7 linked regions of the Homo sapiens genome follow. The protein of the gene in region 3 purifies or fractionates together with the protein of the main gene of each other region. This does not show direct contact. Each region holds a gene or a part of one and is shown on either strand. Other genes may lie near its edges. The genes, in order: F8A1, BLTP3A, RAB30, PHLDB3, CUX1, LLGL2 and ACOX1.

What was found.
Region 1: the proteins of RAB30 (region 3) and F8A1 purify together in Homo sapiens (affinity purification with mass spectrometry, with the first as the bait; 2 studies listed by BioGRID). This does not show direct contact.
Region 2: the proteins of RAB30 (region 3) and BLTP3A purify together in Homo sapiens (affinity purification with mass spectrometry; 2 studies listed by BioGRID and IntAct, with this or other methods). This does not show direct contact.
Region 4: the proteins of RAB30 (region 3) and PHLDB3 purify together in Homo sapiens (affinity purification with mass spectrometry; 2 studies listed by BioGRID and IntAct, with this or other methods). This does not show direct contact.
Region 5: the proteins of RAB30 (region 3) and CUX1 purify together in Homo sapiens (affinity purification with mass spectrometry; 2 studies listed by BioGRID and IntAct, with this or other methods). This does not show direct contact.
Region 6: the proteins of RAB30 (region 3) and LLGL2 purify together in Homo sapiens (affinity purification with mass spectrometry; 2 studies listed by BioGRID and IntAct, with this or other methods). This does not show direct contact.
Region 7: the proteins of RAB30 (region 3) and ACOX1 purify together in Homo sapiens (affinity purification with mass spectrometry; 2 studies listed by BioGRID and IntAct, with this or other methods). This does not show direct contact.

What each region holds. Positions count from the first base shown.
Region 1 is NC_000023.11:154,884,870-154,889,015, reverse strand, and holds F8A1 (40-kDa huntingtin-associated protein), read right to left. Parts: upstream 2,662-4,146; 5' UTR 2,642-2,661; coding exon 1,526-2,641; 3' UTR 955-1,525; downstream 1-954. Other genes in the region: H2AB1 (histone H2A-Bbd type 1), read right to left, coding at 3,619-3,966.
Region 2 is NC_000006.12:34,868,583-34,872,082, reverse strand, and holds part of BLTP3A (bridge-like lipid transfer protein family member 3A), read right to left. Parts: intron 1,230-3,500; coding exon 967-1,229; intron 500-966; coding exon 391-499; intron 265-390; coding exon 158-264; intron 1-157. UniProt on the Homo sapiens protein: Tube-forming lipid transport protein which probably mediates the transfer of lipids between membranes at organelle contact sites. May be involved in the retrograde traffic of vesicle clusters in the endocytic pathway to the Golgi complex.
Region 3 is NC_000011.10:83,061,454-83,065,751, reverse strand, and holds part of RAB30 (ras-related protein Rab-30), read left to right. Parts: intron 1-4,298. UniProt on the Homo sapiens protein: The small GTPases Rab are key regulators of intracellular membrane trafficking, from the formation of transport vesicles to their fusion with membranes.
Region 4 is NC_000019.10:43,474,308-43,478,177, reverse strand, and holds the end of PHLDB3 (pleckstrin homology-like domain family B member 3), read left to right. Parts: intron 1-45; coding exon 46-131; intron 132-2,633; coding exon 2,634-2,768; 3' UTR 2,769-3,075; downstream 3,076-3,870.
Region 5 is NC_000007.14:102,198,300-102,202,597, forward strand, and holds part of CUX1 (Homeobox protein cut-like 1), read left to right. Parts: intron 1-502; coding exon 503-568; intron 569-1,771; coding exon 1,772-1,873; intron 1,874-3,060; coding exon 3,061-3,905; intron 3,906-4,298. UniProt on the Homo sapiens protein: May be involved in intra-Golgi retrograde transport.
Region 6 is NC_000017.11:75,572,405-75,575,709, forward strand, and holds the end of LLGL2 (LLGL scribble cell polarity complex component 2), read left to right. Parts: intron 1-609; coding exon 610-874; intron 875-1,076; coding exon 1,077-1,227; intron 1,228-1,547; coding exon 1,548-1,576; intron 1,577-1,706; coding exon of another isoform or gene 1,707-1,789; exon of another isoform or gene 1,790-1,802; intron 1,803-1,808; coding exon 1,809-1,856; intron 1,857-2,048; coding exon 2,049-2,091; intron 2,092-2,205; coding exon 2,206-2,264; intron 2,265-2,466; coding exon 2,467-2,474; coding exon of another isoform or gene 2,475-2,502; 3' UTR 2,503-2,805; downstream 2,806-3,305. UniProt on the Homo sapiens protein: Part of a complex with GPSM2/LGN, PRKCI/aPKC and PARD6B/Par-6, which may ensure the correct organization and orientation of bipolar spindles for normal cell division.
Region 7 is NC_000017.11:75,968,934-75,973,231, forward strand, and holds part of ACOX1 (peroxisomal acyl-coenzyme A oxidase 1), read right to left. Parts: intron 1-4,298. UniProt on the Homo sapiens protein: Involved in the initial and rate-limiting step of peroxisomal beta-oxidation of straight-chain saturated and unsaturated very-long-chain fatty acids.

The sequences.
Region 1 (4,146 bases), on a different chromosome or scaffold from region 3:
CAGGATTGTGTGCAACTTCGGCCCAAAGGATGCATTTCCCCAGGGTTGAAAGTTTGAGAAAGAGGCTATATTCTGAAGAGTTCTTGTTGTCACCATCAAAAGGATTAAAAAGACGCAATAAATAAGAAAACAGCGTAGTTGGGGGGCATGCTCCATTTGAGCCAGAAAGCCTTGGAAACTTAAGTGTTCTCAAACGGAACGCCATCCTGCTTTGGGGGAACACGGAGGCTGCCTTGCAGTCACGTGATCGCACAACACCAAAGGGCCACGCACTCTGATTTCACCTACTTAACTAAAAGTTGCAGCAAAATCCCTATTACAGGCCAGGCGTGGTGGCTCATGCCTGTAATCCCAGCACTTTGGGAGGCCGAGGAGGGTGGATCATTTGAGGTCAGGAGTTGGAGACCAGCTTGGCCAACATGGTGAGACCCCATCTCTATTAAAAATACAAAAATTAGCCCAGCGTGGTGGTGCACGCCTGTAATCCCAGGCACCCTGGAGGTTGAGGTAGGAGAATCGCTTGAACCCAGGAGGCGGAGGTTGCAGTGAGCCGAGATCACGCCACTGCGCTCCTGCCTGGGCGACAGAGTGAGACTCCATCTCGGGGGGAAAAAAAAAAAAAAAAAAAAAAAAAATCCCTATTACAAATAAAAGCTGTTGTGATCCAGACTGCATATACCTCTGCGAATGGAACCAGAACCGTGAATTCCAATGCAAATCGATGCATCGGCACCAGACCCGCTGCACTGGATGTATCTGCATTGCAGTCACCCGAGTACGGAGCACATCATAGATGATCTCTGCAGGTTCGTTGCCCACATAGGAGGCATAGCGCAAATTTCAAAGGAACGAATACATCCTGGAGCCCAAACAGCTATCTGGTTCTGCTGCTGGCCTCCTGACAAGTAGGTAAGAGAGTCACATTTTATAGACGACGGACACCAAAACCACACATGAGGAGTACAAGAGTAGCTTTATCATGGATTTAGGGCTGTGGTTACAAGGAAGCTGTAAGGAATAAAATGACTCCCATGAAGACGTACCGTGCGGACGAGTGGAAGGAGAAATTTGGCCATTACAAAGACACAGGAATATGTTAAGAAGTGAGGGGCAGGATGAAATCATCTAGGGTAGGTATTTAGAGGGAGGGCGCCGTGCAAAATAAAATCCTCACTATGAAACAAAGGCGGAGGCAGGAGGCTGCGTTAGGTGGAAGCAGCGGAGGAAGGAGACGAAAGGGATTGTCATTTTCATGTCGTGGCTTTTTAGAAGACAGCCATGTCCTCTACTCTGATTCTATCAAAATGTGTTCTCGGGGTGCTGGTAACGTTCAGCCAACGAAATAATTCCTATGGCGGCAGTAGGAATAACAAAACGCAGAAGCGGGAACGATGTCTTTTTATTCCTCCCCAGACGCAAACGTGGATGCATGAGGTTTGGTAACAGGCAAAGTCATCTGGTTAACGTGACTGATGCAAAAAGTCCAGGCCTGGGCAAAAAGAAGTCACTGGGTGAATGGGATGGATCAGACTCCCTGTCCTGAGGGGGAGATGGTTTCTTGCAGAACGAGGTGAAGGAGGTGGTTCTGCTCAGCAGTCAACAGTGGCCACATCTCCACCTGCAGCGACTTGATGGCTTCCGTGTCCTTTTCGTGGGTAGCCATGACCAAAGACTGGAGCAGCAGAAAGAGCTCCTCGGGAAGCTGGCCGCTGCTCTCCTGCCCGTGGCTGTCAAAAGCCTCCCAGGAGTACTTCTCCAGGGTCTGGGCGTGCTCCGGCAGCAGCTTGGCGGGCGGTGGTTGCAGGAGGAGCAGCAGCAGCACGCGGGACACCTCGCAGCGGACCAGCACGTCCGAGAAGGCGCCCAGGGCGGCGGGAGAGGGCGCCGCCGAGCCGGAGTTCGGAGGAAGCAGCGCGGCCGGTAGGGCGGGCGTCGCCCCGGGCCCGGGCTGGGGTGCCGGCGGCGGGGGCGGCGGCAGTGACTGCACCGGGTGGCTGCCGTGCTCCCGCGCCAGGCGCTGCATGCGCGTGAAGACCGCCAGGGCGCCGGTGTAGTCGCGCGCCAGCAGCTGGCAGGAGGCGGCCTCGCCAAGCGCCTGCAGCGCGGCCAGGGGCAGCTGGGGCAGCTGGAGCTGGGCGGCGCGCTGGAAGTGACCGGCGGCGGCGGCCGGCTGGCCCAGGTCGCGCAGGGCGGCGGCCAGCTCGAGGCAGAGGGCGGCGGCGGCGGCCGGCTGGCCCAGCTCGAGGTGCAGACGCACCGCGGCGCCCAGGGCGCTGGCGGCGGCCTGCAGCGGCTCCCCGTAGGCGGCGGGGCAGACCAGGCGCTGGCGCGCGTCGCGCTCCTGCCGCAGGAAGAGGCGGGCGGCCTCGGTGAGGGCCAGCGCCTCCCCGGGCCCGTGGAAGAGCGCCTGCTGGCAGCGCGCCACCGCCAGCTGGCACCAGGCCGCGTAGGGCAGACACTCCTGGGCGCGCAGCTCCCGGCCCAGCTGTCCGAACTGCTCGCCGGCCTCCGCCACGTTCGGCTTCCGCAGGAACCGCTTCTTCAGCTTGTTCGATACCAGCCGGTAGCGGGCCAGGAAGTCCCCGGCCTCGGGTCCCGGGCCGGCGCCGCCGCCGCCCAGGCCTGCAGCCGCTGCCGCCATGCTCGCCGCCCCAAGCACTTCCCGACGCGCCGCCGCAGCTGGCGGGCGGGCCGGGGCGGGGCGACGTGCCCTGCGTCCCCCTCGGCGGGCTGCCGCCGTGCCCGCGCCGGCTCCCCAGCCCGAGCCTGCCCCTTGCCCTGATGAGGTGCAAAGAGCGGGATCGGAGGCGGGGCCTGGCCGGGCTGTGAGCGGCGTATGCAAATCGAGGGTCTCGGGGATGCGGATCCAAGACCCTGGGAAGGTACGCGGGGCCTGGCGGGGCACCAGCTGCTGCTAGCTCGGCTGCAATGCAAGTGGTCTAGGTTGCTAAAGGCATCCCACAGCCTCTCCATCTGAACATGACCCAAACGAAACTCGTGACCCTAATTCCATGTCTGCGCATTTCTAGACTGTTGTCCCCCCCCCCCCCCGCCCCGACTACTCAGTCCTCCGTCTTCCGGTCCAGGGCCCCTTGCCAAGCACCGGGTCCACCTCTCCGTCCCCACCCCGGTTGCCTTAGAAGTCCGTCCTGTCGCAACACTGCAGTCATGGTCTTGAGGCCCACCCGCCCCAACGAACACCATCATGCTGAGGACTTTCCCGGGCAGGCCCTGACTTGCTCAGAACCAGCGGGGGTGTCCCCTTCCCACCCAGGGCCACTCCCCTGCACTGTCACCCGGAGAGACTGCTCCTCTGTGCCATCCCTGGCTCCCACCCAACCCCAGACCCCCACCACCTCTCCATCCCTCCAGCTGTGGAGGTCTCACAACCCCCCAACCCATCTCACCGCCCCCCCACCCCCACCCCAAGGCAAAGTGACTGAAGCGGGCAGATGGCTTCCTTGAAACATTTTATTGACAGAATTAATGAAGGCCCAAGACTTTGGGGCCTGGGTTGTGGGGGGAGGGTGTTTAAGGCCGGGGGTTCAGGCCGGGGGATTTGGGGCCGGGTGGGTGGACGAGTGGACCTGTCAGGTCCCAGGGGCCGGGTGTCAGAAGCTAGTCCTCGCCAGGGGCCACTTGAGAGATGGTGGTCGTGTTGAAAAGGGTGCTCAGTAGCCTGTCGTTGTGAACCACCATGTCCAGCAGCAGGGGAGTGATGTTCCGCTCTCCGCTGTTCTGGGCCTCGTTGCCCGCCAGCTCCGGGACCTTGGCCGTCAGGTACTCAATAACCGCAGCGAGGTAGACCGGCGCCGTGCGACTCAGGCGCTGAGCGTAGTGGCCCTCCCGTAGACTGCGCTCCACCTGGCTCACTGAAAACGAAAGCTCCGCTCGGACGGTGCGAGAGCAGGTCCGCCCCCGGCCGCCAGCACCGGAGGACCCTCGGCGTCTCCTCCTCCTCGGCATGCTGGGCGTTGAGTGTGCTATCTCGGCTTGGCCCAGCTAGGCAAGATGGCTCTCAAGAGGACAGTTACCGCGTCCAGTACTGTGTATCCTAGCGACCAGGGCCCAGCCCCTCATTGGCTAGGGAGCCGAGACCAATGGGCACGCACATCCGGCGACGGGCACGCATGTGGTGACGGCCCC
Region 2 (3,500 bases), on a different chromosome or scaffold from region 3:
CAGCACTTCTAGAAGCCGCTGCTAGGTGACAGGAACCCAAAACACCCACATGCAGGCAGCACACGCAACCTTTTTGCCCCCCAACCCCGGGTTTTACCAGTTTCACAAGTATAGCCCCCAAGGGTTATGGGCAGCTACTGTTCTGTTAGGTCCTCACCTGCTGTTCAAAAACCTCTCCTGTGGGCACCAAAAACACCTGTTCTTTTGGGGGCTGTCTCTTCTCACTTTTAAGTACTTCAGCTGATGGTTTGTCCTGAGCAGCAGCTGGAGAAAACAAGTAAAGGTTCTAAGTGACAAACTGCTGCCAACTCCCAAACAGTTCCTAGGTGTCACCTATTCACTTTTAGGAGAAAAGGCAGAGAAACCAACAGGCTGACAAGCCTGACTCACCGCCTATGTGGAACACACCATCATCACTCCTCTTCAGCACAACATGTTCCATGGCCAGAGTGATGGGGATGGGGCCTGGAGATGTTGGATAGATGGGGGGGATATCATCCTGCAGGAAAGAGAGAAACCACATGATGCCCCCCACCAGCTCAGAGCAATTTAACACAACCCATGCTCCCATCATTCAGCTTGAAGCAGCTTTATGCCAGTTTGTCCATACATTCTTGGAAGGTATAAGAGGCATGGCAGATTCTCCCATCTAGAGATGGTGAAACTGAGAATCAGATAACCTGATGGCTTGCACATGGTAATGCTGCATGCCAAAGACAGGGTTAGGGTTACAGACAAGGTCTCCTCACCTGAACCCTGGCTTTTCTGACAGCAACACACATTTATATACCACTATAACACTGACAGAGAATGCAAATATGTATTAATATTTCCTCACTTGATCCTCACCATATTTTACAGTGAAAAGGGAAGAGGTTAACAGGTGTCACTGCTTCCTTGCTTGACAAAGTCCAGGGCAAAAACCAATGTGCCCTTACATTGGCAAAAACCAAAGGTTCCTCACACCTTTAGGGTGATGCTGGAGTTCAGAAGCTCAATCTGCATGGGGACTACCACCGGGATCTCCTCATCCTCCAAGAAGGGCCCCAGGCCACTGAGCACTGAAGTGAGCAGCTCGAGGTCACAGCCATGAAGCAATAAATGTAGGAAGCCATTTTGTGAGGCCAGGGGGGAATGAACAGCTGCTCCAGGCCCCACCTCAAAGCGAAGGCCCACAGCTGGCCTGATGTGGCCAGTCTTCAAAGTTGAGGATTCCTGAAAGCATGTACCTTTGTGAAGAAAGACAAGGAAGACAACTAATTAACGGCCAGGGAGTCTTCTAGGCACCTTATATACCAATATTCATAATAACCCTATGTCAAAGGAATATCATCATTCTCATCTGACTGAACGAAGTCACAGAGAATAACTTGCCCAAAATTACATAATTAGTAAGTAGCAAGGAGAGGATCTGAACCCAGGCAGTCTGATTGCCAAGTCCATGGGCTTAGATACTTTGCTATAATGCCTTGCAAGGTGGAAGAGAGATTAAGGATTGGCCTTGTTATGAATGTGAGACAGTGGGCTAATGGCCAAGGAAAAGCTCTTAAAACACAGGACTCCCAAACTCTACTAAATTTGAATGTCTCCTCCTTTCTCTAAGTCTTGGTTTTCTCATCTGTCACTCATAAAGCAAAGCAGGATCTATGCTAATCTCTCCAAAACTCCAAACAGAACACTCTCAGGTGTAGCCAAGGATCCTGTGGAACAACTTACACATTTATGGAACTGCAAATTGGTACAAACATTTTGCATAACAATTTGGTATTATCTAGTAAAGGTGAAGTTGTGCCTACCCTAATGATCTAGAAATTATATTGTCAGAAATACAACCCCAGGGAAACTCTCAAACATATATTCCAAGAGACATGTACAAGGATGTTCACAGCAACCCTATTTGAAACTGGAAAAACAAACAAACAAACAAAAACTAGAAATAACCCAAATGGCTGTCCAGAATAGAATAAAGAAGTAAATAGTATAATGGGTACAGGGATATTTTGGGGGTCATGGAAATGTTCTAAAATTGGGTTGTGGTGATGGTTACACAATTATAAAATTGTACACTTAAAATGAGTGAATTTTATGTTATGCAAATTATACTTCAATAAAGCTGTTTTCAAAAAGCAAAAAGTGCCGTGCACAGTGGCTCATGCCTGTAATCCTAAGACTTTGGGAGGCTGAGGCGGGTGGATCACTTGAGTTCAGGAGTTCAAGACCATCCTGAGCAACATGGTGAAACCCTGTCTAAAAATACAAAAAAATTAGTCAGGCGTGGTGGCAGGCACCTGTAGTCCTGGCTACTGAGGAGGCTGAGGCATGAGAATCACTTGAACCCGGGAGGCGGAGGTTGCAGTGGGCTGAGATTGCAACCACTGCACTCCGGCCTGGGCAACCCAGCAAGACTCTGCCTCAAAAAAAAAAAAAAAAAAAAAAAAAAAAGTGGTGTATGTATACAATAACATTATATAGTAATGAAAAATGAACAAATTATAGCTAATTCAACAACCTAGATGAATTTAAAGAATATCATGTTACTTGAAAGAAGCAAATCACAAAAATAGTACAATCTATTATTCCATTTAGAAAAATGTGAAAAAAGCTAAAAATACATTAATATAAACACGTGTACAAATTATAAAGTAAAGCAAGATAACAATGAATACAAATTCAGGATAGTGATTACCTATGACAGGTGAGGGACAGAAGGAGGTTCAGGAGAGGGACTCCCAGAGACTTAAAAGGTAATGGTACTGTTGTATTAATTAAACTAGGTGGTGGGGCCAGGCATGGTGGCTCAGGCCTGTAATTCCAGCACTTTGGGAGGCTGACATGGACAGATCGCTTGAGGCCAGGAGTTTGAGACCAGCCTGGTCAACATGGTGAAACCCCATCTCTACTAAAAATACAAAAATAAGCTGGGCGTGGTGGTGTGTGCCTGTATTCCCAGCTACTCAGGAGGATGAGCCAGGAGAATTGCTTGAAGGAGGTGAAGGTTGCAGCACGTCGAATTCGTGCCACTGCACTCCAGCCTGGGCAACAGAGCAAGACTGTGTCTCAAAAAAAAATTAAAAAACAATAAAACAAACTAGGTGGTGAGTAAATGGGTTCATTGTATTGTTATTATTTTATGCCTTACATATATTTTATAAGTGTTCTTCAGTATCTACTCAATATTTTAATGTTTTTTAAGAGACAGGGTCTTGCTCTATTGCCCAGGCTGGAGTGCAGTGGTGCAATTATAGCTCACTGTAGTCTCAAACTCCTAGACTCACATGATCCACTCACCTCAGCCTCCCAAGCAGCTAGAACTATAGGCACGCACCGCCACACCGAGCTAATTTTTTTTTTTTTTTTTTTAAACAGAGTCTTGCTCTGTCACCCAGGCTGTAGTACAAGGGCGCGATCTCGGCTCACTGCAACCTCCGCCTCCCCGGTTCAAGCAATTCTCCTGCCTCAGCCTCCCAAGTAGCTGGGATTACAGGTGCCTGCCACCACAC
Region 3 (4,298 bases):
GGTAGCTGTTTTTAACATTATTTATCCTTTTAAACATTTTATTTATTGGGTGGTGCTTGTTTAGTATCCACAGTGACAAAATGAGGAAAAAGATAATTTAGTGTAACTACACAACCTGATTCAATGGGAAGTACACAACATCACTGATGTAGAATTTTTGCCAGAAATGCTTAACTTAAATCTAACCATGGGGCTGGGCATAGTAGCTCACATCTGGAATCCTAGCACTTTGGGAGGCCACGGCAGGAAGATTACTTGAGCCCAGGAGTTCAAGACCACCCTGGGCAACATAGGGAGACTCTGTCTTCTCCTTTCCTTTCCTTTCCATTCCTTTCCTTTTCTCTCTTTCCTTTCTCTCTTTCTTTCCAGAGCCTCACTCTGTTGCCTAGGCTAGAGTGCAGTGGTGTGATCACAGCTCACTGCAACCTCTACCTCCTAGGCTCAAGGGATCCTCCCATCTCAGACTCCTGAGCAGTGGGGACCACAGGTGTGCACCACCATGCCTGACTAAATTAAATTTTTTTTTTGTAGAGACAAACTGTCACTATGTTGCCCAGGCTAGTCTTGAACTCCTGGGCTCAAGTGGTCCTCCCATTTTAGCCTCCCAAAGTGTGAGCCACTGTGCCCAGCTCTTGTCTCTATTAAAAGAAAAAAAAAATCTAACCATAAATAAATAATCAGACAAATCCAGATTGTGGGACATACTGCAAAATAACTGGCTTATGATCTTCAAAAATGTCACGCATGAAAGACAACAAAAATGGAAGGTATGAGGGACGACAATCTATATTAAGGGAGACTAAAGAGATATGACAACCAAATGGAACATGTAATCCTAGATTGGATCCTGGACTTAAAAAAAAAAGCTACAAAAGACATTTTCAGGATAATCGGGGAAATTTGAATGGGAGCTACATATTAGATAATCAGTAACAATGTTAGTTTTCTTGGATGTGATAATGATTCCATTTGTTTAACCTGACACGTTGTAGATATTGGTATATGATCAGCTGGCGTTCCTGAATGTCTTCAGGAATGTCATAGCAAAGCTAGAACACATCAAGGGCTGCTTCAGGAGGTAGTGATTTTCCTGGTCATTTCAAGTATTTAATCAGCCTATGGGCTGGGATACCACTTTTTGGGACATTGTAAGTGTTGTTTTATATCCTTTCTAAATACAATCCTGTATTCTGTGACTGGAAACTTCTACAGCTGGCACTCTATGTGTGACATTACTAGAGGGAGCAATGCAGGAGGAACATTAGCTGTTCCCAAATCGAAGGGAAAAGGTACCTAAATATATATCTCAAATTTGTTTTTTGATTCTAGAATTGACATAAGATTGGCTGGGCGCAGTGGCTTATGCTTGTAATCCCAACACTTTGGGAGGCTGAGACAGGTGAATTGCTTGAGTCCAGGACTTTGAGACCAGCCTGGGCAACATGGTGAAACTCTGTCTCTACAAAAAATATGAAGATATTTTTGTATTTTTTAGCTGGGTGTGGTGGCGCACACCTGTGTCCCAGCTATGGGGAAGGGTGCGGCTGAGGCAGGAGGATCCCTTAAGCCCCAGAGGTCAAGGCTGCAGTGAGCCCTGATCATGAGACCTTGTCTTAAAAAAAGAAAAGAAAGAAATAACATAAGATTAATTAAAATTCATTACAGAAAAACACATGGACTGTATAGGGAAAGTCCTCTTTAATTCTACCCACAAAGATAATCAACTGTTAGATTTTGATGTGTATTCTTCTGTCATTTTTCCCCATATGTGTACTAGCAATATTATTATAGCACATGTAATTCTGCTTGTTCTCTTTTACTTAATATATTTTGGGCATTTCCCCCATGTATTTGCATATTGCTCCAACTTACCTGTTTTAATGGTTGTTGGGAACTGTGCTACAGTGAGCCTTTGAGTACCTCATTTTATTATGAATTTGTGGGAATATTTCTGTAAGATATCTTTCAGGGGGCAGAAATGCTGAGTCCAAGGGCACTAGCATTGCCCCCTGATTTAAATTCTTGTCAGCAATGTTGAGAGGGCTAACTCTACATACCTTTGCCAAGTCCATTAGCCACTTGGGCTGAACTCTTTTACTAAGGGAAGCTAGTTGCGAAGGGTGAACAGAACGGGGGCAAAAATTGAACTACGGAGTTCCTGCTGGTTTTTGTGATGGTGGTAATAAAAGTTGATGTGTAAATAATGTAGAAATCCCTGGAAGAGAGAAATACTTTATCCCTGCCTGCAACACAGTACAGTGTTTAAAAAGTGAACTGAAACAATAAAGCAGTCAAGAGTTTTCCCCAGAGAATTCTGCAGAAAAATTTTATTTTCTAGTTACGGTTAGTTAACTTCACTAAAATGTGGACGTCATCAACCTTGAAATGAAAATATCTTCTGCTCACTTCCTCTACATCTCAGTCATGCAACCACATTGCAAAGAGAATTTAAGCTCCACTTTTAAAATATCTGAAGCAGGTGGTTAAAAGGCCCGAGTGTTCATTTTTCTGAATTTCAGTAGAAGCAATCAAAGGGCAGATTTTTGGCATTTTTCTTTAGAGAAGCAGGTGTGAGCTTAGGAGTGGCCATCAGTGAGTCACTTTGCCCTAACAGGAACCCTGGGGAAGAGATTGTGAGGATCGCAGCCATGAATTATTTTCACTCTTTAGCCACTGTGGCTGGGTGAAGCAAACAAAAAATTTGAGCTGTTTGCTACGTGGACAACTTATCTTTTTTTTTTTTTTTTTTGAGACGGAGTCCCACTCTGTCACCCAGGCTGGAGTGCAGTGGCGCAATCTTGGCTCACTGCAACCTCCAACTCCTGGGTTCAAGCGATTCTCTTGCCTCAGCCTACCGAGCAGCTGGGATTACAGGTGCCCACCACCATGCCTGGCTAATTTTTTTGTATTTTTAGTAGAGATGGGGTTCCGCCTTGTTGGCCAGGCTGGTCTCAAACTCCTGACCTCAGGCGATCCGCCCACTTCAGCCTCTCAAAGTGCTGGGATTACAGGTGTGAGCCACCATGCCTGGCTGAGCCTCAGTTTCTTTATCTATAAAATGGGGATTATTGTGGGGCTCAAAGGAGATGTTGTGTATAAAAGGACTTTGGCAAATTTATGTGCACATAAATATATTCTGTTGTCAAAGGGTTCATGTCTCAAACTCTCAAACTGAGCAAGTTCATACTAGTCTTTCCTTTAACTCCAGTGGCCTTTGTAGGCTGAATGACTTTTTGAAAGGAATTCTGTCTCATGTTGTCTAATTGTTCCTTCTTCAGCCAGTGTTTGTGTGCTAAATGCAAGGTCCTGTGCTGGGTATTCTGATAAAAAAACAAAGGTGGAACCATCTGAGTGCTTTCCTTGTTCACCACTTTAATTGTAGGAAACTAATATCTTTTAATGAGAGTCTTCAATAAAAGATGCTCTACAAAGTTGTATTGTGGATGCTGTCTTATTATCTCAATTCTAGGCAGTAGAATTTAGCTCAATTTTTTACATACAAATGAGGAACCAATTTTCAGTAAGGTTAAGTAAACTTGTTTTGTTTTTCGACATGACCTAGCCCTCCCCTCCCACTCTGAAAAATGCAGATATAGACCCTAGGTAGGCTTTCTGAAACCAAAACTATACTGTTTCTGTAGCTGCTTCCTGTTCTTGCCTTGCCTTCTGATTGAAAATATAAGCTTCATGAAGCCAGGACCGTCTGGTGGCATTTACTTTCATATGGTTCATGTTATTTTCAGGCACGGGGGAAGAGTTTTCTGTAGACCTTTTGTTCACTGGAGCCATAATGTGAACTGTCATAGCATCTACTGGGTGCCAGGTGGTTTATGTTTTATTTGATTCTTTTTCCAACTTAATTCGAAACCTTTCAAACCTTTAGAGCAATTGCAAAAATAGTACAGTGAAGCCAGGCACTGTGGTGCACACTGGTAGTCCCAGCTACTCAGGAACAGGAAGAATGCTTGAGCCCAGGAATTCAAGAGCAGCCTGGGCAACGTTGTAAGACCCCATCTTTAAAAAAAAAAAAAAAAAAAAAAAGAAAAGAAAGAAAAAAATCCCACCTAAAAAAACAAAAAACAAACGAAAAACATTCCATGTACCTTTTATCTGGATTAATTTGCTTTTGTCTTTACACACATACACACACACGTGTGCACACACACAGATACTTTTTCTAAACCACTTGAAAGTAAGTTGCAGATATCGCCATGCTTTGTCTCTAGGCCCTTAAGCATATATCCCCTAAGAACAAGGACATTCTCCCATGTAATCACAATACCATTACATGGAAACAA
Region 4 (3,870 bases), on a different chromosome or scaffold from region 3:
ACACCTTTCTCACTGGCTCTCTTTTTCTCTTACCTCCCCTACCAGACAAGGAAGAGACCAAGCTCAAAGGTGTCATCTACTTCCAGGCCATTGAGGAAGTCTATTATGACCACTTACGCTGTGCCTTCAAGGTGAAGCCCCTCAATGTCACCCTGACCTCCCAGTTGGAGACTCAGTTGGAGTCAGGCCTTATCTCATCCCTGGCTCATCCTGGGGAAAGCCACCCGCAGCTTCTCCTGTCAGGGTACTCATAGGAGTACGTGTTTGTCGCAGAGAAAACAAACAGGTCACCTGACTGCAGGGACTAAAAATTAAGAGCCCAGACTCTGGCCTTCAGCCACTGTTAATTTTCTTCTTTTTTTTTTTTTTTAAGACAGAGTCTCATTCTGTCGCCCAGGCCTGAGTACAGTGGCGCCATCTCGGCTCACTGCAACCTCCGCCTCCCTGGTTCAAGCAATTCTCCTGCCTCAGCCTCCTGAGTAGCTGGGATTACAGGCACCGTGCCCGGCTAATTTTTGTATTTTTAGTAGAGACGGGGTTTCACTGTGTTGGCCAGGTTGGTCTCAAACTCCTGACCTCATGATCTGCCCACCTCAGCCTCTCAAAGTTCTGGGATTACAGGCGTGAACCACCGCACCACACGTGGCTCTTTTTTTTTTTTTAGATGGAGTCTGGCTCTGTTGCCCAGGCTGGAGTGCGGTGGCGCCATCTTGGCTCACTGCAACCTCTGCCTCCCGGGTTCAAGCGATTCTCCTGCCTCAGCCTCCCAAGTAGTTGGGATTACAGGCGTGCCACCACAGCTGGCTAACTTTTGTATTTTTAGTTGAGATGGGGTGTCACTGTGTTGGCCAGGCTGGTCTCGAACTCCTGACCTCATGATCTGCCCACCTTGGCCCCCCAAAGTGCTCGGATTACAGGCGTGAGCCACCGCACCTGGCCTGTCACTGTTAATTTTCTTGGAGCAAAAGTTTTAGAGCCAAAATATGGCAGACTCTGATGTCCAACTGGGAATAAATGAATGGAGAGGTCACAGCAAGGGTCGGGCAGCCTGGGAGCATCTAAAGGAGATGATCTGCCAGGCGTCGTGGCTCATGCCTATAATCCCAACATTTTGGGAGACCAAGATGGGAGGACTGCAGGAGGCCAGGAGTTTGAGACCAGCATGGTCAACATAGCAAGATCCCATCTCTGTTTTTTTTTTTTTATTTTTTAAATGAAAAATAAATAAAGGAGATGGTTGTTAGTTGGCTCCTGCCAACAGTTGCCAAGTGGGAGTGGGTCCCATGGTGTTGTCTTATATTTATTTTTTCCCAGAGAACTCAGGAATTGGAACTTGTATAAAGCACAGTGCCAAAAATTTAAATGTTGGCAACTGATACAATATTTAGAAAGCTCTGTGGAGAATAACCAAACTGTGGCTTTTTAGCAATTAGGTTGGAATCTCAGCTATGTGACATCAGGAAAGTGACTTCCTTTCTTTAGCCTTTAGCCTTAGTTTTCTTTGTTTCTTTTTCTTTTTTTTTTTCTTGCTCCATAGACCAGGCTGGAGTGCAGTGGTACAATCATAGCTCACTGCAGCCTCTATCTCTCGGGCTCAAGCAATCCTCCTGCCTCAGCCTCCTGAGTAGCTAGGACTATATGTGTGTGCCACCACACCCAGCTAATTTGTTTTGTTTTGTTTTTCTGGTATTTTTTTGTAGAGATGGGGTCTCCCTCTGTTGCCCAGGCTGGTCTTGAACTCCTGAGTTCAAGCAATCAATCCGCTTCAACCTCCCAAAGTGCTGGGATTGCAGGCGTGAGCCACCCAGCCCGGCCGGCCTGAGTTTTCTCACGTGTAGAATGGGTACGCATCAACCCATTCCATCAGGGTTATTGAGAGGGCTAAAAACAGATTATGGACATAAGGGATTTACTCAATTTGGGATTGGCAAGTGGGTACTCAAATAACGGATTCTAGACACTAACTTTTCCCAGGTACAAGGGGACCTAGATTTTGGGGAGGTGGAATTTGAATGCCTGTATTTCTAATATAGGAGAAGTTAGGCTGAGAGAAGGCGTCATAAGTCCTACTTTTAAATTTCTCGGCCTGGCACAGTGGCTCACGCCTGTAAGCCCAGCACTCTGGGAGGCCGAAGCAGGCGGATCACGAGGTCAAGAGATCGAGACCATCCTGACAAACACTGTGAAACCCTGGTCTGTACTAAAAATACAAAAATTAGCTGGGCGTGGTGGCACACGCCTGTAGTCCCAGCTACTCGGGAGGCTGAGGCAGGAGAATCGCTTGAACTCGAGAGGTGGAGGTTGCAGTGAGCCAAGATTGCGCCACTGCACTCCAGCCTGGCGACAGAGCCAGACTCAGTTTCAAAAAAAAAAGAAAAAAAATTTATCTTGCCCCTAATTTATCAATAGCGCTCTACATATGATAATTTTAAGCACTTCCTTGTGTTAATTCATTTAATCCTTATAACCCAGTGAGGTAGGTGGCATCATTTGGGAAGACAGGGAAACTGACATTCAGATACTTAAGTACCTTGTCCAGTGCCACACAGACTATAAGTAGCAAGGCTGGGTTCGCACCCAGACTGTGGCCGGTGTCTTTTGTCTGAATTACCCTCACTTTCTGCTTATTCCAGAGCCCCAACCCCCGCCTGACCTTCTGCGTCAAAACCTACGAACGCCTTTTCTACATGGTGGCTCCGAGCCCCGAAGCCATGCGCATTTGGATGGACGTCATCGTGACCGCCGCTGACGAAAACCACGCCCCCTGAGTGGCCCCGCCCTCTTGGGGGGAAGTCCCTTCGAGGCTCCGCCGGCGCGGGGCGCGGGGGCGTTCCTAGGCCCCGCCCACTGCCGGAAAACTTGGACGCACCGCTTTGGAACTCTCCCGGGAATTCCGCAGGCGCGGCAGTTCAGCTGGCCTGAGCTGCTGCGTTCTGGGTTGCAGGTGCCTTGCCCCCGACGGGATCGCCGGCCCCTAAGGCCCTGCCCGGGGCAGGAGGAAGATTGCAGGGGCGGGAAGAAACTATTTATTGGTGCTCCTGTGATACCGAATTAAATACGGAGGAAAAACAGGAATTGCTGCTGTGGTTTCCAGCCCAGGCATCCGGGGCCCCTTGACCCCTAGGCAGGACATCTGAGTTATCGGTACCTCTGGGAGCCACGCGTCCCACAGCCGGCTCTCTAGGAATGGAGGCCTTCAACTCTTAAGGTCATAGCTGGGAGAAGAGGGTGAGAGGCATGTCCCCCTTAGTGTTTGGCAGTTTTGCTTTTTTAGTTTGTAGGCCCTTCTGTTTCCACCCTTTCTGGCCTGACCGGCTGCTGGAAATTTCTAGGAACTCCTAGGCTTCCCCCCTTTAGGCCTTTGCCTACGTTGTTCCCTCTGCCCTTTTCTTCCCTTTTTTTCTTTTATCTATTTATTTTTATAGAGATGGGGTCTCACTGTGTTGCCCAGGCTGGTCTCCAACTCCTGGACTTAAGCGATCCACTCACCTTAGCCTCCCAAGGTGCTGAGATTACAGGTGTGAGCCACCACGCCTGGCCCCCCTCCTTCCCTTAATCAGCTGCACCTCATTCTTCCAGCCTTAGTTCAGTTGGCACCTCCTTCAGGAAGCCCTCACTGACTTTCCTGGCTGGGTCAGGCACCCCCTTTTGAGCTCTGTCATCCCATCCCTGAGGACCCTGGGTCATCATGGGCGATGGATCTGTGTCCTTTATGCACTGGGAGCTCCATGAGGCAGAGCCAGCATTGTCCTGGTCACTGCTGTTCCCAGCACCATAGAGCATGTCTCATTCCATGAAAGTGGAAAAAAACAAAAAATAAAACTCGCTTCCCTTTCACCTCTGGGCCTTTGTACGTTCTGTTCCCTTTGC
Region 5 (4,298 bases), on a different chromosome or scaffold from region 3:
ACCAGGGGATCAATGTGCCACATCAACAGAGCTATTGAGAGGTCATTTCATCAGACATGTTTGAAACACCCTGAAATTTAGACTCAAACAGAGCAGGGAGATGTTTTGAACAGCATCAATTTGCACCAAGAAAATGCAGTGTTTTATGAGGATGTTAACCGAAATTGAATGTCTTTGGATGATTAATGCGAGCTTTGTTCTGGGGGCTGGCGGGTGATCCTCCTTCAAGGCAGTCCTCCCTCCCATGGACCTCCCTGGCCTCAATGCCGTAGGTCGCTACTTAGATTTCCCCCATCTCCTTTTGCAGCAGAGCCACGGCCTCTGCGGGCCGGTCAGCCAGGGAAGGGCCTCTCAGAAGATTCTAGAAACTCCCGAGTTGCACAGGCAGCCCTGAGCCCTTTCTTTAGTGACAGGCGGCTCAGATTTCATGTCACACAGCCCATATCGTCAACACCACCATTCCCCTGATTGTTTTGTTCTTACCACACTTGTTTTTCAACAGAGAATCCAGGCCAGAGCCTGAACAGACTATTTCAGGAAGTACCGAAACGAAGAAATGGGTCTGAAGGTATGTTGCAGGCAGGCGTTTTCTTTGCAGTCAGTCACCTAGGGAAGCAGCATGTCCTTAGCTGTGTATTTGGGTTAAAACTGTGCAGTGTGATTCTGGCCTGGAACCTGATGGAAAAACAGCTAGTAAGTATAAAACAAGGCACGGGTTCAAGCACACCCAGCCCCTTCCTCCCGAGCTGCCTGCCCTCTCCCAAGCACAGGCGGGGGTGAGAAGAGGCATTGCTAAGCTAAGCCCCCCGAGTCTGAATCCCAGCCCACTTCAGATCCTAATTACCCGGTCCCCCGTTTTTCTCAGACGCAGTTGAAAAAATAACAGCGGTTGCTCTGAGAAAAGTCAGGTGACCCGTCAAATTAAATACTGCTGCTTCCTCGTATTTTTAACTCGGAAACACACTCAAGGTCCTATGGAACGGACGCATCCCACATCGTCCCGGTGGCATACTTGTTTTTAAATGGTGGTATACTTGTTTTGAATGCAGTGGTTCCTATTTAGGAAGGTAGTAAGAAATTAAACTATCCGGGTGGCTTCCCGAAAGAGCTGGGGCCAGCCCCTGGGCCATAGTAGCCTCATTTCGTCGGCACGTGTGCCTGCACAAAACATCACCATGTGGCCGAAAGAATCCATCCTCCCCACTTAGGAATTTCTGCAGGCTCCTTTCCTCGTATGTAAATTTTAAAAAGATATTATGTGATAATAGGTGCAAACAATTTTTTAAGTTAAGCCTTTCTTCACCCTGTGCCTCTGAATGATTGATAGACAATCAGCCTCAAACCCTCTGCCCTCCTTTTCCGTTTATCCTGTGTGGGACCCCAGCATCCAATAAACATCTAACCCCGAGGAGAGTCAGTCCCAAGCCACAGCAGTTGCTTCTAAGTGACTCATGAGAAACATTGCCTTTTAATCACTCGCCTTTTATATATATGGATTAAATGATCGGTTCTCCCGGGTACTAACCCACGGGTGGTGTCCGGCTTTGGCAGAGTAACATTGACCGTAAGGTCAAATGAGCAGGAAATCCCTCCTGCCCGGTGTCGCTGTGAAGTTGCACTCACAGCAAACACAGGCCACTGGGAGGCCACATCTGCCTCCTTGTGTCACCAGCCCCCACCCGGGGCTATATATCAGAATGACGTCTTCGCGCAGCGCTGATTTTTGTCCGGGGTTTGGGTTTGATGTCATTGGCGCAACTTCTCCCCACAGGTAACATCACCACCCGGATCCGAGCCTCGGAGACTGGCTCTGATGAAGCCATCAAGTCCATCCTAGAGCAAGCCAAGAGGGAGCTCCAAGTGCAGAAAACTGGTACAGCTTCCATTTCTTCATCCACTGTCTTCAAACTTAATTAAGAGAATTGTCATGAGTGCTCTGGTCAGCAGTAATTAACTATTTTTTTTTTAAACAATAATGAATGCCTGTTCTCAAGCATTTAGGCACGTAGAGAGAAGCAGGTCTGTGTGATCTGTATTTGCCTAATAGTTACCTTTTTTTTTGAGATGCAGTCTCTCTCTGTTGCCTGTGCTGGAGTGCAGTGGCACGATCTCAGCTCACTGCAACCTCTGCCTCCCGGGTTTAAGCGATTCTCCTGCCTCAGTCTCCCGAGTAGCTGGGACTATAGACATGTGCCACCATGCCCATGATATTTGTGTTTTTAGTAGAGACGGGGTTTTACCATGTCGGCCAGGCTGGTCTCGAACTCCTGACCTCCAGTGATCCTCCCACCTCGGCCTCCCACGGTGCTGGGATTACAGGTGTGAGCCACCGCGCCTGGCCCCTAGTTGTAATTATTCACAGAAATTACGCTCCTTAACTTTGACAGAACCACTTGCATTTCAGAATATAGCACAGGAAAATGAATACCAAGTATAAAAATTATCAGAGGTCAGGCGCGGTGGCTCACACCTGCAATCCTGGCATTTTGGGAAGCTGATGGGGGAGGATGACTTGAGTTCAGGAGTTTAAGACCAGCCTATGCAACACAGTGAGAGACCTTGTCTCTTAAAACACTAGCCAGGCATGGTGGCATGCACCTGTGGTCCCAGCTACTTGGGAGGCTGAGCTGGGAGGATTGCTTGAGCCAGGGAGGTGGAGGGTGGGTACAGTGAGCCGTGATCGTGCCACTGCGCTCCAGCCTGGACAACAGCGAGATCCTGTCGCTAAAAAAAAAAAAAAAAAAAAAAAAAAAAATTCTCGGGGAAAGGAGCCCCAGGAGGGCAGGTCGGGGAGCACTTTCACTGACACCCCCTTTATTACCCTCTACATCTGTGTGTATACCAAAGGCCACCAGGTCATCAAGCTGTAGTGTCAGGCCCTGGTCCTTGGTTGAGACAAGATGCCTGAATGTTTCACTGACAGGGGCCATGCTGGGGAAATACACAGTGTGGTTCTCCCAAATAACCCACACTTTGCAGTAGGTCAAGTTAGGATGAGAAGCATGTCCCCAGCTGAAGGGGGCCGCCCTGCCACACTCTCACCCCTGTTTCTCCATGCAGCAGAGCCGGCCCAGCCTTCCTCCGCATCCGGCAGCGGGAACTCTGATGACGCCATCCGCTCCATCCTGCAGCAAGCCCGCCGGGAGATGGAGGCCCAGCAGGCTGCCCTCGACCCTGCCTTAAAGCAGGCACCACTGTCCCAGAGTGACATCACCATCCTCACCCCCAAGCTTCTGTCCACCTCGCCCATGCCCACCGTGTCCAGCTACCCACCTCTCGCCATCTCCCTGAAGAAGCCCTCCGCAGCTCCTGAGGCCGGTGCCTCTGCTCTGCCGAACCCCCCGGCCCTCAAAAAGGAGGCCCAGGACGCCCCCGGGCTGGACCCCCAGGGAGCAGCCGATTGTGCACAAGGGGTCCTGAGACAGGTGAAAAATGAGGTGGGCCGCAGCGGTGCCTGGAAGGACCACTGGTGGAGCGCGGTGCAGCCGGAGAGAAGAAATGCCGCCTCCTCCGAGGAGGCCAAGGCCGAAGAAACGGGCGGCGGGAAAGAGAAGGGCAGCGGTGGCAGCGGAGGTGGCAGCCAGCCTCGGGCCGAGCGCAGTCAGCTCCAGGGACCCTCGTCGTCAGAGTACTGGAAGGAGTGGCCCAGCGCTGAGTCCCCATACTCCCAGAGCTCAGAGCTGAGTCTGACCGGGGCCAGCCGCAGCGAGACACCACAGAACAGCCCCCTGCCATCCTCCCCGATCGTGCCCATGTCCAAGCCCACCAAGCCCTCGGTCCCCCCGCTGACCCCCGAGCAGTACGAGGTCTACATGTACCAGGAGGTGGACACCATCGAGCTCACCCGGCAGGTTAAGGAAAAGCTGGCCAAGAACGGCATCTGCCAGAGAATCTTCGGGGAGAAGGTAAGGGATCTGCTCTGGGGGCTTTGGTTCTCCCATCTCTTCTCCTTGCTGAGGACCAAGTATCTATCCCGCAGCCTGTGACCCTCACCCATTTCAATTCACCCAAGAGCAGAGCGTAAGGCATCCTCTGCTCCCAGACTTCCAAGGTGCGGCTGGTGAACATTGCAGCCCCGATCCCATTTGCCGAGCCCCGACTGCAGCCAGGTTCTAGGCTCAGCCTTTCACCTGCATGCTGCCCTTTCGACCCCTCACTTGGCGCTGGGAAGTGGATGGTAAAATCCCCAATTGACAGGGAAGGACACCAAGGCTTGGGGACGTTAACTACTTGCCCCAAGCTGACCGGCAGCCGAGTCCACATCCAGCTTTTGCTGCCAAGGGGAGCTGAGAGGCACC
Region 6 (3,305 bases), on a different chromosome or scaffold from region 3:
TGTAATCCCAGCACTTTGGGAGGCCGAGGCGGGCAGATCACAAGGTCAGGAGATCGAGACCATCCTGGCTAACACGGTGAAACCCCGTCTCTACAAACAAATGCAAAAAAATTAGTTAGGCGTGGTGGCGGGCACCTGTAGTCCCAGCTACTCAGGAGGCTGAGGCAGGAGAATGGCGTGAACCCAGGAGGCGGAGCTTGCAGTGAGCCGAGATTGTGCCACTGCCCTCCAGCCTGGGCGACAGAGCGAGATTCCGTCTCAAAAAAAAAAAAAAAAACCAGCATGGTGGTGGACGCCTGTAATCCCAGCTCTACTCGGGAGGCTGAGGCAGAAGAATTGCCTGAGGCGGAGGTTGCAGTGAGCCGAGATCACACCACTGTACTCCAGCCTGGGCGACAGAGCAAGACTCCATCTCGGAGGAAAAAAAAAAAAATCCAGATAGGGAAGTCGGTGACCTCGGCATCCTCCCAGGCCATGTCTGTGCATCTGAGAGCCAAGGGTTTGTCAGGACACCGGGAGGCATGTGGGGAGGGGAGGGCCCAGCAGCAGCAGCACAGGGCAGGAGAACTGGTTTGGCCATGGGCATGAACAACCACCCCACGCCCCCAGGTGTTCACGCTGCCCAAGGTGAGTGCCAAGCTGAAGTTGAAGCTGACGGCCCTGGAGGGCTCAAGAGTGCGGCGGGTCAGCGTGGCCCACTTCGGCAGTCGTCGAGCCGAGGACTACGGGGAGCACCACCTGGCAGTCCTTACCAACCTGGGCGACATCCAGGTGGTCTCGCTGCCCCTGCTCAAGCCCCAGGTGCGCTACAGCTGCATCCGCCGGGAGGACGTCAGTGGCATCGCCTCCTGCGTCTTCACCAAATATGGCCAAGGTGTTTGAGCCGGGCTGGGTGGGTGTCGGGGCCCCGGGCACTGCACGGACGGGAAGGGTGGCCAGGGGTGTTGTGGCCACGGCCAGACTGGATGGGCCTTAAGCGGAGAACTGCGAGGGAGCACTAGCCCCTACTCCCCCAGGTGGGGAGGCAGCCTTGGCAGCCGCCAGGCCAGGCCGCTAGCATTGCCCCCACTCCCCAGGCTTCTACCTGATCTCACCCTCGGAGTTTGAGCGCTTCTCTCTCTCCACCAAGTGGCTGGTGGAGCCCCGGTGTCTGGTGGATTCAGCAGAAACCAAGAACCACCGCCCTGGTAACGGTGCGGGCCCCAAGAAGGCCCCGAGCCGAGCCAGGTGAGTGAAAGGGCCAGAGGCCTCTCCCGCCCCTCCCGCCCCTCCCTGCCCTCTCTGAGATACCGAGGCTCCCACTGCTGCCTGGCTGGAGGCACCTCCCCACGAGCTCAGCCCACCCTCCCAGGCTCCGGCTCTCCTTGCCTCTTTGCGTGCCCCTTGCCCCTGTGCAAGCTGGCAGTCCAGGGCAGGACTCAGTTTACCTCCCAGGCTCTCCGGCTCAGGACAGGCTGCGCCATTGACTTGTTCTTCATGGGACCAGGGCTCTCAGAGCCGGGCAGGGAGCCCGGGGGCCCTGGTCCTCACTGTCTCTTCCCCCACAGGAACTCAGGGACTCAGAGTGATGGCGAGGGTAAGACAGGCCTCCTGGGCTCATGCACACCTGGGCCACACCCGGCCCAGACCTGGGGCTGGACGGGAGGGAAGGGTCCCGAGTGAGCAGGTAGTGTTTGGGCTGGGAATAGAGACGGCATTCCTTCCAGCCCTGGGCCCTGGGCTTCCACATCCTGACCTCAGTAAGGAGAGAGAGAGCCAGGCCGAGGAGGGCCCAGGCGGGGCGCCCTGACCCGGCCTCTACCTTCCAGAGAAGCAGCCCGGCCTGGTGATGGAGCGCGCTCTGCTCAGTGATGAGAGTGAGTTGGGTGGGAGAGGGTGGGGCTGGCAGGAGGGGTGGGGAAGGGGGGTCAGGGTCAAGGGAGGCTGGGCAGGCCACTGCCCTGAGGCGGGGTACAGATCCATGGGCACCCACGGAGAAAGGGGGTGGAAGGGCTGTGGCTAGCCGCCCCAAGGGCCTCAGTGGGCCTCTGTTCCCACCCGGCCTGCAGGAGTCCTGAAGGAAATCCAGAGCACACTGGAGGGAGACCGCGGGTGAGGCACCGCCCAGGCCAGCTGGGGTGGGCCCGAGGCTCTGCCAGAGGGCTCAGGGGAGCGCTGAGAGTGGAGGTCCCTGAGGCCATGACTCCCCTGTCTTTGCCTGTGCAGGAGCGGCAACTGGCGTTCACATCGAGCCGCCGTGGGGTGCAGCCTCAGCAATGGCGGAGGTGGGGGCTCTGGGCTTGAGTGCAGCTGCCAACCGTGCTGGGAAGGGCTGGGAGGAAGAGCCCCGGCCCCACTCCCCTGGGTCCCACGGGGCTGACACGTGCCCTGATGACCAGGAAAGCACCATGTCTGGGCTCAGCGTGGGCGGCTGGGGCACCCCGTCCTGCCCAGGGTGATCTTGAGCTGTCCCTCTGTGTCCTTCAGCAGAGTGAGTGGCTGAGCGTCCAGGCTGCGCGATGAGCACACACTACTACTGATGGCCTTTCGGGGGTCCCTGCCCCAACCGGAGAGGCCGGTGCACAGGGCCCCGCCAGGGGCTGGGGGCATCCCGGCTTCCACAATGCAGCTGCTCTGGGCCTCGGGAGAGGAGAGACCCCAGTCCCCTGGGCTGCCCTTCCCGGGCCTCGTCTGTCTGGGTCCTTTGGTCAATGTTGCACAGTTTTTATTGCTCCCATCCCTTTTTGTAGTGGGCTGGGTTTTAAGTTATAAATGTTAACTGCCTCTGGGTGAAAAAGTTTTTAATAAACACCTATTACCTCTTGACTGGTCCACTACTTTAATATTTTAATTGTGTAGAAATTTTCCATGTGAATGGAAAGTGGGAGCCGGTACCCTGCCTGTCCCCCGAGGCTCCAGCCCTGGCCTGGGCCGGTGTCAGGAGAATCCACTTGGGGAGCCGTGTGAATCAAACTGCTTCGTTTTGTCTGAGCCCGGCGGTGCCTTCCCTCTGTGGGAACACATGGCAAGCACGAACCATCTTGAGTCTGCCTGACTTTTTCCCTGGGTCCTGGCCGCCCCTGGCTGGCCTTTCCCTACTGTCAGAAGAAGGACACCCACAATATCTCAGACCTGATGGCTTCCTCCAGACACCAGGGAGGACTGTGGGGTGCTGCTGAAGCGGGGCTGGTACCCAAGGAGAAAGGCCTTCCCCAGGGGAGGGGCTGGGTTATTTAGATTGGACATGGGCTGGATCTTTATTGACTCGTCTTCGTTGAGCACCTACTGTATGGCCAGTGCGTGGGGTTCTCCGGTGTCTGAGACAA
Region 7 (4,298 bases), on a different chromosome or scaffold from region 3:
AAAAGAAATATGTTAAAGTAGCAAAATAAATTAAAGTGACCACGTTGATGGAGCTGTGGAAATACAGGTACAGAGCTTGCTCAATATATTGTCAACTGGTTCTGTGTTTCAGGAAAAGCCTCAAACTATGCAGCAAAAGCTCTAAAATGCTCATGTCCCTCAATATAGTAATTCATTTCTGAGAGGTATTCCAGAAGTATGACCCCAAAGAATACAGCGTCTTATTTATTTATTTATTTATTTATTTTTTGAGACGGAGTCTCACTGTTGTTACCCAGGCTAGAGCGCAATGGCGCAATCTCAGCTCACCACAACTTCCACCTCCCAGGTTCAAAAGCTTCTCCTGCCTCAGCCTCCCTAGTAGCTGGGATTACAGGCACGCACCATCACACCCAGGTAATTTTGTATTTTTAGTACGGACGGGGTTTCTCCATGTTGGTCAGGCTGGTCTCGAACTCCCGACCTCAGGTGATCCACCCACGCTGGCCTCCCAAAGTGCTGGGATTACAGGCGTGAGCCACCGTGCCTGGCCAGAACACAGCTTTCATAAAGTTTATATTATTATCACTAATATTGGTGAAATTTAGCCCAAATCCCCAGGGAAGCAAGTCTCATGAGAAGTCCAACAGGGAAGAGAATCACTTGGGCAGAGGGAAGAGGAGACTGTTAAGCCTAGGGAGAGAGGGCAACGGAGTGCGGTAAAGACTGATGACTTAAAAATCAAGTTTACTACCTCTTTCCAGTTTCAAAGAAAGGTGCATTATTTCATATTTAAGTGTTAATGATGGCAATTTGCCAGGATACTGCATCAGCTTCAAGGATAACTATGTATCATACAATCTCTATATTCCTAAATAGATGGTAATACGAAACAAGGCAATGTGACCCCAGTCCATGGGTGAGGAATAAAGAAAGAAAGGAACGAAAGGAATGGAGGAAGGGAAGAAGACAGAAAGAGAGCGAGAAAGAGGCCGGGTGCAGTGGCTTACACTTCTAATCCCAGCACTTTGGGAGGCCGAGGTGGGCAGATCGCCTGAGGTCAGGAGTTCAAGACCAGCCTGGCCAACATGGTGAAACCCTGTCTCTACTAAAAATATAAATATTAGCCAGGTATGGTGGTGCACACCTGTGATCCCAGCTACTCAGGAGGCTGAGGCAGGAGAATCACTTCAACCAGGGGGAGGTGGAGGTTGCAGTGAGCCGAGATTGTACCATTGCACCACTCCAGCTTGGGCAACATGAGACTCCTTCAAAAAAAAAAAAAAAAAGAGGAAGGAAGGAAGGAAGTGAGCAAGCAAGCAAACAAGGAAAACAAAGCAAGAAGAATCTCCAGAAATGGCCACATCTTGAAATGATTACATATCTGTGAAGAGCAAACAAACGACCTGTTTTGTGGCCTAAAGAAACATATGGTCAGGATGATAACATGGACCCAGTTCCCCAGGCTGTTCCTTTGATCCCAGAACTCCAGGGAGGTGAGCCTATCACCCAGGTTCAGGCCTCTGCCTTTGATTATGGCTCCCAGACCCACAGGGCAGGTGTATATCCGAGTTTCTTCGTGTCCTTAGAGGAAAGAAGACACACTCTAGAAAGAAGGATAATGCTGGTGACTGAGACTTTCTGTAGGTGACTGAATTTTAGGATTTGGAAGGAACATGGAGTGAACCTGAATACTTCTGAGCCCCTTCACTTCTCAGCAGCTACCCAGAAGTGAAAGAATCCCAAACCCAAAGTTACAGCTACTTCTGTGAGACCGCGTTAGATAATCACTGTTCACTGTTGATCCATTTTCCAAAGTCTCAGAATTTAAATAGTTAGATCTCATTCTATATAAGCTGCTCTATTGCCGATCTCCTGGACGTTGACTTTTTGTGTATTCCATATAAGATAAAACCGTCACGTGATGCAAATTAACCAACCTGACTTATTTCCAAGGAAAAGATCAGTCATCAACCAAGAACAGCAATATGAATTAGCAAAATTCCAGCAAGAAAAAAGACTAATCTTAGGACACTGTTCTCTAAACCACAGAGATTAAGACAACGTTGGTTTAAATACAAGAAAATACCCAAAACTAGCTGGGCATGATGGCTCACGCCTATAATCCCAGCACTTTGGGAGGCCGAGGCGGGCAGATCACCTAAGGTCGGGAGTTCGAGACCAGCCTGACCAACATGGAGAAACCCCGTCTCTACTGAAAATACAAAATTAGCCGGGCATGGTGGCACACGCCTCTAATCCCAGCTACTAGGGAGGGAGAGGCAGGAGAATCACTTGAACCTGGGAGGCGGAGGTTGCGGGGAGCCGAGATCGCGCCATTGCACTCCAGCCTGGGCAACAAGAGCAAAACTCTGTCTCAAAAAAAAAAAAAAAAATACCCAAAACTAAAAGCAATAAGGGAACGAAAACTCTAACAAATGCAAACTTGCCCACAGCCATATAGGATCTCTGTCCAACTTCTGTTTGCCTCAAACCAGTATAGTTCAAGTCTTCCTTTCTTCCTCTCTCCTTTCAAAAATTAGGGCAGGCCGGGCGTGGTGACTCACACCTGTAATCCCAGCACTTTGGGAGGCTGAGACAGGTGGATCACCTGAGGTAAGGAGTTTGAGACCAGCCTGGCCAAAATGGCCAAACCCCATCTCTACTAAAAATAACAAAATTAGCCGGGCATGGTGGCAGGTGCCTGTAATCCCAGCTACTCAGGAGGCTGAGGCAGGAGAATCCCTTGAACCCAGGAGGTGGAGGTTGCAGTGAGCTGAGATCACTCCACTGCACTTCAGCCTGGGGCACAGGATGAGACTCTGACTCAAAAAAAAAAAAAAAAATTAGGGCAAATATATATTTGTGATATTACTTTATAAATGAGGCAGAAGCATTAGACCAACAAGAGGTAAGAGGTATACTTAACAAATCCATTAGCCTCAGACTATTTCACATCTTATGCCTCCTATGAACAGCATGACTGTTAAGTCGAATAAATTCTATAATGATGAATACTGAAACAGAGTTCTGTACCACAAAGCTACTTCAAAATTACAACACACACACACACCACGCATGCATGTACACAAACACACAGATACTCCAAGCGAGGAGGACTACATAAAGAATCTTATCTCTCAGGCCGGGTGCAGTGGCTCATGCCTTGTAATCCCAGGACTTTGGGAGGGCAGATCACGAGGTCAGGAGATCAAGACCATCCTGGCTTACACGGTGAAACCCCGTCTCTACTAAAATACAAAAAATTAGCCGGGCGTGGTGGCGGGCACCTGTAGTCCCAGCTACTGAGGAGCTGAGGCAGGAGAATGGCGTGAACCCAGGAGGCGGAGCTTGCACCGAGCCGAGATGGCACAACTGCACTCCAGCCTGGGCGACAGAGTGAGACTCTGTCTCCAAAAAAAAAAAAAAAAAGGAAGGATCTGTCAGCCAGGCGCGGTGGCTCACGCCTGTAGCCTGTAATCCCAGCACTTTGGGAAGCCAAGGTGGACAGATCACCTGAGGTCAGGAGTTAAAGACCAGCCTGGCCAACATGGAGAAACCACGTCTCTACTAAAAATACAAAATCAGCCGGGCGTGGTGGTGAGCACCTGTAATTCCAGCTACTCGGGAGGCTCGGGCAGGAGAGTCACTTGAACCCAGAGGCGGAGGTTGCAGTGAGCTGAGATCATGCCATTGCACTCCAGCCTGGGCAAAAAAAGCAAAACTCTGTCTCAAAAAAAAAAAAAAAAAAAAGAATCTTATCTTCCTTTACAAACCTTTCTTTCAGGCTTATAATTTCAGTACTGACCATCTTGAAGTTGAAGTCTTGAGTGTTTAGTAAAGTGTCTGGAACATCAAACCATGACCAGAAAGCTGCAGTACCCATGGAGATGACAATAAATAACATTTTCCTTAAACCAATTCACACACTGAAATCAGCAATCAAACACAAAATGATGTTTCCCTGATATCTGCATCCCTTTTTCTTTCCCTTTCTTTACTCCTGCCATTTTGATAATTAGACATGAGGCTGGGCAGTTCAAATTCCAAACACTCAAACCTGCCAATGGCCTTGTCTATGAAAACAAACCTATTTCACATTAAGATCAAAAGCAAAACTTTTTGAAGGAAGCCAGATATTTAGGAACAATTTAACAAAGAATTACTGGCAACACAAGAGTTCCCAGACATGTAGGGGAAAAAATGTCTAAAAAGACTGAAGTCAGATGAAGAGAATCATGGACTTTTTTCCAAACTGCCTTATAACCCTGCTAGTGGGCAATGAGATGAGACAGGTAGCTGCCACTGCCTGCTGCCCC